2 linked regions of the Homo sapiens genome follow. The protein of the gene in region 1 interacts with the protein of each later gene in a pairwise test. Each region holds a gene or a part of one and is shown on either strand. Other genes may lie near its edges. The genes, in order: STAT5A and AGAP2.

Region 1 (7,284 bases):
CTCTGTCTAAAAAAAAAAAAAAAAAAGTATCCATCATGTGCCAGGCTCGGTGGCTTACGCCTGTAATCCCAGCACTTTGGGAGGCTGAGACAGGCAGATCACTTGAGGTCAAGAGTTCGAGACCAGCCTGGCCAACATGGCAAGACCCTGTCTCTACTAAAAATACAAAAATTAGCTGGGCATGGTGGCGCATGCCTGTAATCCCAGCTACTTAGGAGGCTGAGGCAGGAGAATTGCTTGAACCCGGGGTTAAAGGTTGCAGTGAGCCGAGAGCACCACTGCACTCCAGCCAAGGCAACAGAGCAAGACTCCATCTCAAAAAAAAAAAAGTATCCATTATGAAATACGTAAGACACAGGGGATGTGGAACACAAGGGCGCCTGTGTATCAATAACCCAGGCTAAGAAAGTAAACATGTCCACAGTTACAACCACCACCGCAGGCCCACCCCACCCTCCCAGCGACAGCCCGTCTCCACCACACTGGGACTATTAATCCCTTCCCATCACCTTCTCAACAGCCCAGCGTCCTTGCTTGAGCTGAGTCAGAAGATGCGCGCACCAGCATGTCTTGGTCGAGCTCCTGGCTGGCCCCTGAGGGCCACGTCACTCTGACCCCAGCCCTGACCCATGGGATGCACAAGCTGGGACAGACAAAAGCAACTCTATGTAGCCAGGAACAGCCCAGAGCTAGAACTCAGAAATATGGCTCCAATCTCACTGCAGGTATCGAGCAGGAAGAGGATCATCCAGGCACGGACAGATCCGAGGTGTCTGCACGGCTACCTCGGGTATCCTGCCCAGCCACAGGGAGGGTGGTGGTGATCCCAACACCTGGGCCCAGCCTTCCTATGCAAGGGACCCACTTAGGGCTCTCCTGGAAATTTGCAGAAGCTTTTAGGAAGGAGGCCAGGGAGACGGGAAGCAATTTCCCTACTCCACTGGAGGCAGCTGAGCCTTCCCTGGCAAAAGCAGATCAATAGTCTGTGTTTCTGCTGAGTGAACTTGACAAATGGGACTGAGAAGACACTGCATGATAGATCCAAACCCAACCTGAATCCAAACCTAATCCGCCACCATGCACAGGAAACAGAAAAGCCAGGCACGGGATCAGAAATACTGTCGACAGTCTAAGGACTTGGGTAGGAATAACCGCCCAAAATCTTCCGTTTCCATTCTCAGAAGGAGCTGCCCTTCTTCTAGGGCCAGTCTGGGATAGATTCAGATGAGGGGAAATTCTCTTAGAATTATCCTGTCAGTATTGGCTGGGCACCGTGGCTCACGCCTATAATCCTAGCACTTTGGGAGGCCGAGGCAGGCAGATCACTCGAGGCTAGAGGTTGCAACCAGCCTGGACAACACGGCACAACCCTGTATCTACTAAAACTACAAAAAAAAAAAATTAGCCAGGCATGGTGGTGCATGTCTGTAGTCCCAGCTACTGAGGAGGCTGAGGCATGAGAATAGTTTGAACCTGAGAGGCAGAGGTCGCAGTGAGATGAGATCGTGCCACTGCACTCCAGCCTGGGCAATAATAAATAAACAAACAAACAAACAAACATTTAGAATTATCCTGCAAGTATTTACATAATAGCTGCAATATTCAGGCATTGTGCTGGTCTCAGTGTACACAAAGCACTGACAGTGCAGGGTTAGGAAGAGAGCTTAAATAGCTACAATAGAATTCTAAAAAAATCAGCTGGGCGTGGTGGCCTGCACCTGTAGTCCCAGCTATGCGGGAGACTGAGGCACAAGAATTTCTTGAAGCTGGGAAGCAGAGGCTGCAGTGAGCCGAAATCATGCCACTGTGCTCCAGCCTGGGCGACAGAGCAAGATTGTCTCAAAAAAAAGAAAAGAAAAAGAAAGAAAAGAAAAGAAGAAAGGTCTAAAATCAATGACCTAAGGTCTACCTTAAGAAATCAGATTAAAAAGAGTAAAGGAAAAAGCAGTTTGACACCCCTTGTTCTCACTAAGATGAGGTGTTACATTTCTGGGGTCAGTCTGGAATGGGACATATTAATAGATGGGCCATGTCCCATGACTCCTCAAATTGTACCTGGGGATAGTTCCTTTCAAGCTAATTTGATTTTTTAATTTCCCCACATCTTTATCATGGGAGCCATTGGCGAACTACAGACCTAGGATACAGGAGAATTTTCTACTGTCACCCCTTCCCCCAGGCCCACATCCTATCCGTGAGGCTCAAGAAGGCCCACTTTGGAAGTTCCACCTCTCCCAGCCTGGTTCAACCAGAAGACTTCCAATCCAAGTCCTCCCTCTGGTTAGGGAGCACTGTTCATATTTACCTATTTGTGTCGATATTTACAGAATACATACCATTAAGGAGAGAATACTGGTTAATAAAGTACAGGAGTTTTATGATATATCTCTAGTTGAGATCCAGTTCTGTAATTTACAGGCAACCTAGGCCAAGTTACTTGTTCTCTTTGAACCTCACTTTTACCATCTGCAAAAGGGGGGATAACACAACTGTTCACTTCATAGGCTTGTTGAGAGGGTTGAATTAAATAATGTGTGCCAAGTGTGACCCACGGCAGGGGCTCAATCACCGGGAGCCATTGCTTCTACCAGGCTTTGGGCAAAGTGCTGAGGAGATGGACACTGACCCAGCTCTACCCTCTAGGAGTCCATAGAATGTTCCTCACTCCCACCCTCCGGATGCACACTGCCTCCACCGCGCCTCACCTTGGATCCTCAGGCTCTCCTGGTACTGGATGATGAAGTACTCCTGAGTCTGCTGCAGTTTCTTCAGCTCATTCTCTGTGTCCTGCGTGACCAGTCGCAGCTCCTCAAATGTCTGGTTGATCTGAAGGTGCTTCTGGGACATGGCGTCAACCAGGATCCCAGCCGGAGAGCTGCACTGGAGACAGATGGAATGGAAATAACTCGGGGAAGAGAGGATGGGAGAAGACCACAGGCATTAGGAAACACCAATACTACAGACCCCAAACCCCAAACCCCAAACTAGGGTAAGAAGGGAAACTAGGGCAAGAAGGAAGGATCATTTGCATCAGAAGGAGTCATTTGCCAGAATTGGGATAGAAAAGGGAAAGAGAAAGGAGAAACAGGTGACCTGGCAGATAACGGCAGATAGTAACACCTTCAAAGTCCAAATATCTATGTCAGAGCTGCCCTCCACTAGAGTATTCCAAACAGGGTCCATCTAATTTCCTCCCAGGGACTAGAACTCAACACGTCCCAGGTGTCACCTGGGTTTTCCCACTAATGATGATGACCCCTCGCTCTACATTTATTTGCTGACTCAATACCATGGACTGCAGTAGATCCTAGGGACATAGGGAGGAACAGGGCTGTGTGAACACACACCATCTCACTTAAGACCCCCTTGTGACTGAAGGAAGAGGGAAGAGGCCGAAACTCTCACAGGCATCCTGGAGACCCCGAAATGAAGTTAGAGGGGAGGCATCAACAAGCTCCCCTTGGATCCAGCCATTCCTTCAGCACATTCAGGAGAATCGCTTGAACCCAGGAGGGGGATGTTGCAGTGAGCCGAGATTGCGCCACTGCACTCTAGCCTTGGCAACACAGCGAGACTCCGTTTCAAAAAAAAAAAAAATAGAGAGAGAGGGGTAGAAACCAGGTCACAAAGGGAGGGAGCACATGGATGAAGAGGAACAAGTCCTCAGAGGCTTTCCAATGAACTGTTCTCAGAATAAAATCCAAACCCCTTCCCATGGTGTCTGCTGGCCATAGCCCTGCCTACCTCCAACCCCAGCTCGCTGGGAATGTGTGCTTTCTGTTTCTGTTCCTTGAACACACAGGCATGTTCCTGCCCTGGGGCCCTTGCACTTATTGTTCCAACAGTCTGGAACATTCTGGCATCAGATCCTCCTGAGGCAAAGCACTTTAACTGGTACCATTGCAGAGGGGTCATCTCTGACGAGCCAATTCACAGTAGTCCTATCTAAAAGTGTGTTGTTCTTGTATTTGCTTACATGTTTCTGTCTGTCTCCCTGCACAAGGATGTGAGGTTCCCAAGGGCTAGGACCTTGCCTTTCCTGTGAACTACAGAATCCCCAAGCCCTAGAATGCCAGGGGTGTTCAGGAACAGTTGTATGGTTGGAGGAAGGAATGAGCTCCCAGACCATGACAGCACCAGCACCATGGACATGGATTTGTCAATGAGGCTGAAGTCATTTTTAGGTTTGCAGATAGCTCTGTGATGGCAACAAGTCAGGGACACAGGGGCTGTGCTGGAAGACCCTTTGTGACCTGGTTTCTAACCCCTATTTTTTTTTTTTTTATACAGAGTCTCGCTCTGTTGCCCAGGCTGGAGTGAAGTGGTGCAATCTCAGCTCACTGCAACATCCCCCTCCTGGGTTCAAGCAATTCTCCTGCCTCAGCCGCCCGAGTAGCTAGGATTACAGGCGCCCGCCACCACGCCTAGCTAATTTTTGTATTTTTTAGTAGAGACTGGGTTTCACCATGTTGGCCAGGCTGGTCTCGAACTTCTGACGTCAGGTGATCCGCCCACCTTGGCCTCCCAAAGTGCTGGGATTACAGATGTGAGCCACCACGCCTGGCCCTCTCTATCTATTTTTATCCATGGCAACTCCCCACTTGGTTCCTTCTCCCCAGTTACACTGACCACTTACAAGTCTTCCAATGTGATAAGAAGATTCATGCCCTCCTGCTCTCGCAGCTGCTGTCTTTTCATTAGAAAATTCATCCCTCCTCTCCTGCCTTTCTCCACTGTAGCTCAGACATGCCTGTCCACAGGACGCTCCCCTGCCAGCCTGCCCCAATCTGAGTTGGGTGCTTTTTCCACCTAGGCCCCCTTAGCACTCAGCTCATCTCTAGAGAATCCATCACTGCCAGAATTCCTTCCAGGCAAGAACCAGGCCTTTATGTGTTTCTCTGATGATAGCCCAGCATCGGACACACAGTAAGACCTCAATAAATGTCTACTGAGTAAATCCTGAAATCCATGTCCACAACAATAAATACGTAATAGGCCGGGCGTGGTGGCTCATGCCTGTAATCCCAGCACTTCGGGAGGCCGAGGCAGGTGGATCACTTGAAGTCAGGAATTCGAGACCAGCCTGGCCAACAGGGTGAAACCCTGTCTCTACTAAAAATACAAAAATTAGCCGGGCATGGTGGTGGGCCCCTGTAATCCTAGCTACTTGGGAGGCTGAGGCATGAGAATCTCTTGAACCCAAGGGGTGGAGGTTGCAGTGAGCCGAGATCACGCCACTGCACTCCAGCCTAGATGATAGAGTGAGACTCAGTCTCAAAAATAAATAAACAAACAAACAAATAAAGAAAGAAATAATAAATATGACCTGTGCTCCGGTCACTGTTCTAAGATTTCTGTCACGTCATGTTGTGAAATTCATTTTGCTCTATTGCAGATAGTACAGCACTGTGCCATTGTCCATGTAGATGCCCAGTGCCTTTATTATTTCAGAACTGGGGAGATGTGTCCCTGTTACCCCTCCCTGGGCCTCACTTCTCTGAGCCTGCCTGTGTTAGTTCTTCTGACACAGATAGGTATGATTGCTATCTCCATTTTACAAGAGTAGGAACAGGCCGGGCACGGTGGCTCACGCCTGTAATCCCAACACTTTGGGAGGCCGAGGCGGGTGGATCATGAGGTCAGGAGTTCAAGACCAGCCTGGCCAACATAGTGAAACCACGTCTCTACTAAAAATACAAAAAAAATTAGCCGGGCATGGTGGTGGGCACCTGTAATCCCAGCTACTCGGGAGGCTGAGGCAAGAGAATTGCTTGAACCTGGGAGGCAGAGGTTGCAGTGAGCAGAGATCACATCACTGCACTCCAGCCTGGGCAACAGAGCAAGACTGCATCTCGGGGGGGAAAAAACAGTAGGCGCCAAGCGTGGTGGCTCACGCCTGTAACCCCAGTACTTTGGGAGGCCGAGGTGGGCGGATCACGAGGTCAGGTTGAGACCATCCTGGCTAACACAGTGAAACCCCATCTCTGCTAAAAATACAAAAAATTAACCGGGCATGGTGGTGGGCGCCTGTAGCCCCAGCTACTCGGGAGGCTGAGGCAGGAGAATGGTGTGAACCTGGAAGGCAGAGCTTGCAGTGAGCCGAGATCACGCCACTGCACTGCAGCCTGGGTGACAGAGCAAGAATCCGTCTCAAAAAAAAGAAAAAAGAAAAAAGAAAAAAAAACAGGAACAGAGGCTCAGAGAGATTAAGCAACTTGCTCAAGTCACACAGCTAGTAAGTGGTAGAGCCAGGGACTGGATCCAGGGGGTCACTCCACCCCGGCGTGCAATGCTGCCACCTCTTACACTTGCCCACGTCCCTCATCTTCTTGGTGCTCTCCTCGTGCTGCTGTTTTATATAAACACAGTTGTTTCTGGAGAGAAAGGCATATGGAGGGACTTCTCAACACTCCTCCCCATCCCCAAGGGACACTCACATTGTTGGCTTCTCGGACCAGCCTCTGTTCATTGTACAGAATGTGCCGGATGCAGCGGACCAGCTCCAGGGGGCAGCGGTCATATGTTTTCTGAAAGAATCCAACAGTAGCCTCCAGCGCCATCCTCTGCTCCAGCCATGCCAGCCCCATGCTATGCCCAGCCCTTCCTCTCCTTCAGCCTCTGCCTCAGCTTTTCCCAGGGAGCCTCAGGAACTATCCCCAGACACCTCTATATCTCTGTTCCTCATCCTCATCTTCCCCTCCAAGATCTTCATATCTGGTTTGGAGCGAATTAAAAACCCACAGTTTATGAGGCACTTTCTCTTTTTTTTTTTTTTCTTTTTGAGATGGAGTTTTGCTCTTGTTGCCTAGGCTAAAGGTGCAATGGTGTGATCTCAGCTCACTGCAACCTCCACCTCCCGGGTTCAAGCGATTCTCCTTCCTCAGCCTCCTGAGTAGTTGGGATTACAGGCATGTGCCATCACGCTCGGCTAATTTTGTATTTTTAGTAGAGGCGGGGTTTCTCCACGTTGGTCAGGCTGGTCTCGAACTCCCGACCTCAGGTGATCCACCCGCCTCGGCCTCCCAAAGTGCTGTGATTACAGGTGTGAGCCATCATACCCAGTCTTATGAAGCACTTCCAATCTACCGTATCTTTTGACTGTAACACAGGGGTCCCAAACCCCTGGGCCATGGACTGGTACAGGTCGGTGGTCTGTTAGGAACTGGACCACACAGCAGGAGGTGAGCGGCGGTGAGCAAGTGAGTGACGCTTCATCTGTATTTACAGCTGCTGCCTATTGCTCGCATTACAGCCTGAACTCTGCTTCCTGTCAGATCAGCAATG
Region 2 (4,330 bases), on another chromosome or scaffold:
GACACTGAGTTTGTGGACACCAGGGACCTCTGCAGCTAGCTGGGAAATCTTTCCCAGGAGGTCTCCCACCCCTTCCCTCTGGAACACCCCCTGACGAGGCCAGGGGAGGAACCCCTACTCTATGTTCTACTCTGGTACCTAGTGCTCACGGTGAGCAGGCTGGCTCGGGGCAGCCCTCCTCAGAGCTGGAGCGCCTTTCAGGTGCCCTCTGAACAGATACTGTTCAGAATACAGATAAACAGATGCCACCAAGGTCCCCTAGCTGTGCAGTGGAGGGGCAGGTTTCAAAATCAGATCTGTCTCCAAAGTTCCTGCTCTTAAACAAAGCTGTCCCATCTTCCCACCCCTCTCCATGGGCCTGTCCTCTCCTCTAAGTACCATATCCCAACTCTCCCAGGACTGGCATCATCTTAAGAGTCAGTGCCTTCTCTGTTCCCAGGGTCCCCACTGACTCCAACCTGCCCACGTCCTCCACTACATGAACCCAGAACTGTTGTACATGATGGAACCACCTCCATGCCCATGGGTACTGTCCTGCCACCAGCCCCAGTGGGAGGCACCTCTGCCTGTCCCTGTCCAACCCCAGTACCCCATCTTGACCAAGGCCATGCCCTGACCTGCCTCCAAGAACAGACCAGCAGCTCACCCCCTAGACAAAATCACTTCCTCTTTAATTGCTGTTGAAGAAGATTCACACCACTGCCTCCAAGGAGATGGGGGGGCATTTCCCCCTTGCCCCCACCTCTCTCCCCTCCCCAATTACCTGGTCCTTTGCAAACTATTTTAGCCAGAAAAAAAAAAAAAAAAAAAGACCGGAAACCACTGACACAGACAGCCCAAGGGCTGGGTTGGCTGAGGGAGGCAGGGCTGGGCCAGGTAAGTCCGCCCTATCACCCAGTTTGTGGGGAAGGGGCAGGGGGCCTGGAAACCCTCCCAGCCACCTCGAATCCTCTCAGCCCTGGCTGGGAGAGGTCACGGGGGTGAGGAATGGCTCTGGAGCTGCTCCAGTGGGAGGGAGGGGCTGGACAGAAAGAATAATGGGGGAGGGGTCCCACTGTAGGGGTGCCCCCTACCCCAGATCACCACGGGCGCTGCACAGTCACAGGTACGCAGTCACGGTCACAGACACAACCCGAGAGCACCCCCACCCCAACCCACCCCCTGCCCACCCTGGGCTTCCCCTACCCCAAAACGCCCTCCCCACGCCCCTGCCCGCCCCCATCCCCATGTTGGGGAACAAAGCAATAAATTACAAGGCCCCCGCAGCCCTCTTAGCCCGCTCCTGCTCCATCCCTTCTCCCTCCCAAGATAGTAGTGGGAGGGACCCAGGCTCTTGGTTCCCCCCGGACTCTTTAGCTTCCACCCATGGGTAGGTGTAGGGGACGTCCTGGTTTCCACTACTCACGGTCCCTTTCACGGAAAGGGTTGGGAACCCCCACCCCCATGAGCAGCAGGGGTCCTGCCCCTCGCTGCCCTTGCCCCCTTCACTGGGCAGTGAGATGAGCATGGAAGGGGTAGGGTTTCCGTATTGGCCCCAAGTCCCGGGGCTAGCCCTCCCATGTACTAAACCCTCCCTCTGGCGTGGCGTCGCCCCAGGAGCCAGCCTGGGTATGGGCTCCCGCCCTGGGATTGTTGAGCTCGGGCAGGACCGGGTCTTCTTTCCGCCCCTAGGGGGCACAAGCGGGCATGTCCAAGCGCCTAGGAGCCCGTACCGCTGGGGACCTCCCCTTCCGCGAACCCCGAGCGGGTAGACCCAGAGCAATCCGAGTGTGGAAACAATGGAGAGGGGGCGTGTTGAGCTGGGGTCTCCATGCCTCGTTGGGGAGAGGGAGGTGAGTTTGTGTCTTCTGGAAGGCGTGGGGGCTGTGCCCTCGTGGGGGTAGGAAGTGCTCCCGTGGGGCGGGGTGCGGATCGGAGAGGTGAGTGGGTGCGTCTGTCCAGCGGTCCGCCCGGTGTGGTCGTGCCCGGCCCGCGTGGGGATGGGGGTGTCTCTCCCGCTGGGCAACTATACCAGCGCAACCGGGGCGTCGGCGCGGCCCACGCTAGCGGCGCTGCTCCGGCGGCGGGGGCTGGGCGTGGCGGTGATGCTGGGCGTGGTGGCCGCGCTGGGCGTGGTGGCCGCGCTGCCGCCCTCACCCGGGCAGCCGTGCTGGAGAAGGATGTCGGCGCACAGCTGGCTTCCAGCCTGGCGGGCGTAGAACAGCGCCGTGCGGCCCTGGGCGTCACGGGCCGCCACGTCCGCGCCGTACTAGAGGGCGGAAACGGCCGCGTGACCGCGCGTCCCCAGGGCGCCCACACCCGGCGCCGCCTCCCCCACATGGCCAAGCCTACTTCCGGGGTCCCTCTGGGAATTTCGGGCTTTCCCGCGCCAGGCGTTTTCCGAGATGAAGCCTCAAAGACCCCCTTTCCTCCCCCCAGCTCACGTACCCACAGCAGCAGTTGCGTGATGACGACGTGGGCGAGCTCGGCCGCCAGGTGGAGTGGGGAGCGCAGCTGTGGGTCCTCTACGCTGGTGTCGAGCGGCCCGTGTCGCGCATGGGCCAAAAGCAGGAGAACGGTAGCCACGTCCTGGGCCTGCACGGCGGCCCACAGCTGGCGGCCCAGCGGCTCCTCCGAGGTGCTCAGCGGCGCCAGGAACAGTAGCTGCTCGTACTTGGCGCGAATCCACGACTCGCGCTCCTCCCTGCAAGACCAGGGATCAACGGAAAAGGCTCTAGGGACCCCCAGCCAGGACTTCTGCCCCTACCCACGGGACCGTCTCAGGTTCGCACACCCTCAGCAACCCTCCCCCCGCTCTGTTCCCTCACGCTTACCGCGAAGAGTCCCGCGAGGGCTTGGCACGGCCTCGCGTGTCGCTTTCCCACACGCGGTTGGCCGTGTCGTTGCCAATAGCCGTCAGCACCAGGGTCAGCTCCCGTGGCCAGTCGTCCAAGTCCAGCGAGCGAACGCGGGACAGGTGTGTGCCCAGGTTGCGGTGGATGCCAGAACACTCGATGCAGATGAGGGCGCCCAGGTTCAAGCTGGCCCACGTGGGGTCTGCGGAAGGAGCGTAGAGGTCGGCTCCCAGCCGGGCAGCACAGGCACCCCGGCATTCACTACACTCCCTAGCCCCTCCGCTGCCTCCTGGCACTCACTGGGGGCCCCGCAGTCCACGCAGATTGAATTCCCCTTGGCGTTCCGGATCGCCTGGATGGCCACGGCCTCGCTTTGGCTGTCTGTGCGCAGCTGCAGAGAGGGTTTGGGTTGGCACTGACTCTGCCTCCAAGCCCCACCTCCTTCTCAGACACCTCTGCTCTCCTCTCACACGACTTCGGCCGTGTCGTTGCCAATGGCCGTCAGCACCAGGGTCAGTTCCTGCGGCCAGTCCTCCACTCCACCTCAAACTCTTACCTTGACCTTGCTGCTCTCACAGCATTGCAGACTGGCTAGGATCTGACTCTCGATGGCCTGGACCCAGGCATCCCGCTCCTCAAAACTGGCTGCCTCAAAGTGCCACGTCTGACCCGTGCTGGACACGATCAGGAACTCAAAGTTTTCCTCTGAGTGGGGGATGGGATGGGGTCATTAAGGGACAGAGTTCAAGCAGGGGCTGCCTTTCCCAAGACCGTCCTCCCTGATGTCCATCCCGAGCCCCTGGGAGTGGGGCAGTGGGGGTAGGGAAAGCAGAGGGTGGGGGGCAGCAGGAAGCCCGAGCACATGCAGGGGAAGGCGGGGGCACCCCCACCCTTCTGCACCCCAGCTGAGCGCCCCTCCCGGCTCCCCACTTGTTACCTGCTTTATAAATATTTCTTAAACTACCAAAGGATTTTAGTTTCCACATTTTGCGCTTGGCTGGTTTCCCGAAGCGAAGGAGATAGAGATAGAATGGAGAGCAGAACAGAGAAAGAGAGACCAAGAAAGAAGGAGAAAAAGACAGGTAGATGGAGAGATGGAGAGAGATAGTGACAGAGTGCCAGAGACAAAGCAGGACAGACAGATGGGGAGAGAAAGCAGAACTAAAGTCAGTGGCCCCGGAGCAGAGTGGAACAGAAGCCAAGAGCCATGAGAGTAGGCAGATCTGGAACCTGGGTCTGAGCACCCGGCAGAGAGCAGGGGCAGCAGGGATGGGTTATCAAGACCAGCGAGGAGCTGGACCTCTGGGAGAAGAAGGGAGGGTCAGGATCTGAGTGAACACGGGGGAAGGGGACAGAAGCTGGGGCGCAGGGCTGAGATGAGAGGGCCCTGGGGCTGGTGGCGGTGGGGGTGCGGGGAATCACTGAGGGACAAGAATGGGGATCACTATGGTCAAGGGCTGTTGGGGAGCACTTGGCAATAGAAAGTTATCGGGAGA

What was found.
Region 2: the proteins of STAT5A (region 1) and AGAP2 interact in binary tests that used the Homo sapiens proteins (3 or more experiments, as listed by UniProt).

Annotation. Positions count from the first base shown.
Region 1 is NC_000017.11:42,291,215-42,298,498, reverse strand, and holds part of STAT5A (signal transducer and activator of transcription 5A), read right to left. Parts: intron 6,528-7,284; coding exon 6,438-6,527; intron 2,881-6,437; coding exon 2,706-2,880; intron 1-2,705. UniProt on the Homo sapiens protein: Carries out a dual function: signal transduction and activation of transcription. Mediates cellular responses to the cytokine KITLG/SCF and other growth factors. Mediates cellular responses to ERBB4.
Region 2 is NC_000012.12:57,724,547-57,728,876, forward strand, and holds the end of AGAP2 (arf-GAP with GTPase, ANK repeat and PH domain-containing protein 2), read right to left. Parts: intron 3,832-4,330; coding exon 3,772-3,831; exon of another isoform or gene 3,540-3,771; coding exon 3,391-3,539; exon of another isoform or gene 3,226-3,390; coding exon 3,135-3,225; exon of another isoform or gene 3,037-3,134; coding exon 2,814-3,036; exon of another isoform or gene 2,684-2,813; coding exon 2,428-2,683; exon of another isoform or gene 2,419-2,427; intron 2,249-2,418; coding exon 2,006-2,248; 3' UTR 651-2,005; downstream 1-650. UniProt on the Homo sapiens protein: GTPase-activating protein (GAP) for ARF1 and ARF5, which also shows strong GTPase activity. Isoform 1 participates in the prevention of neuronal apoptosis by enhancing PI3 kinase activity.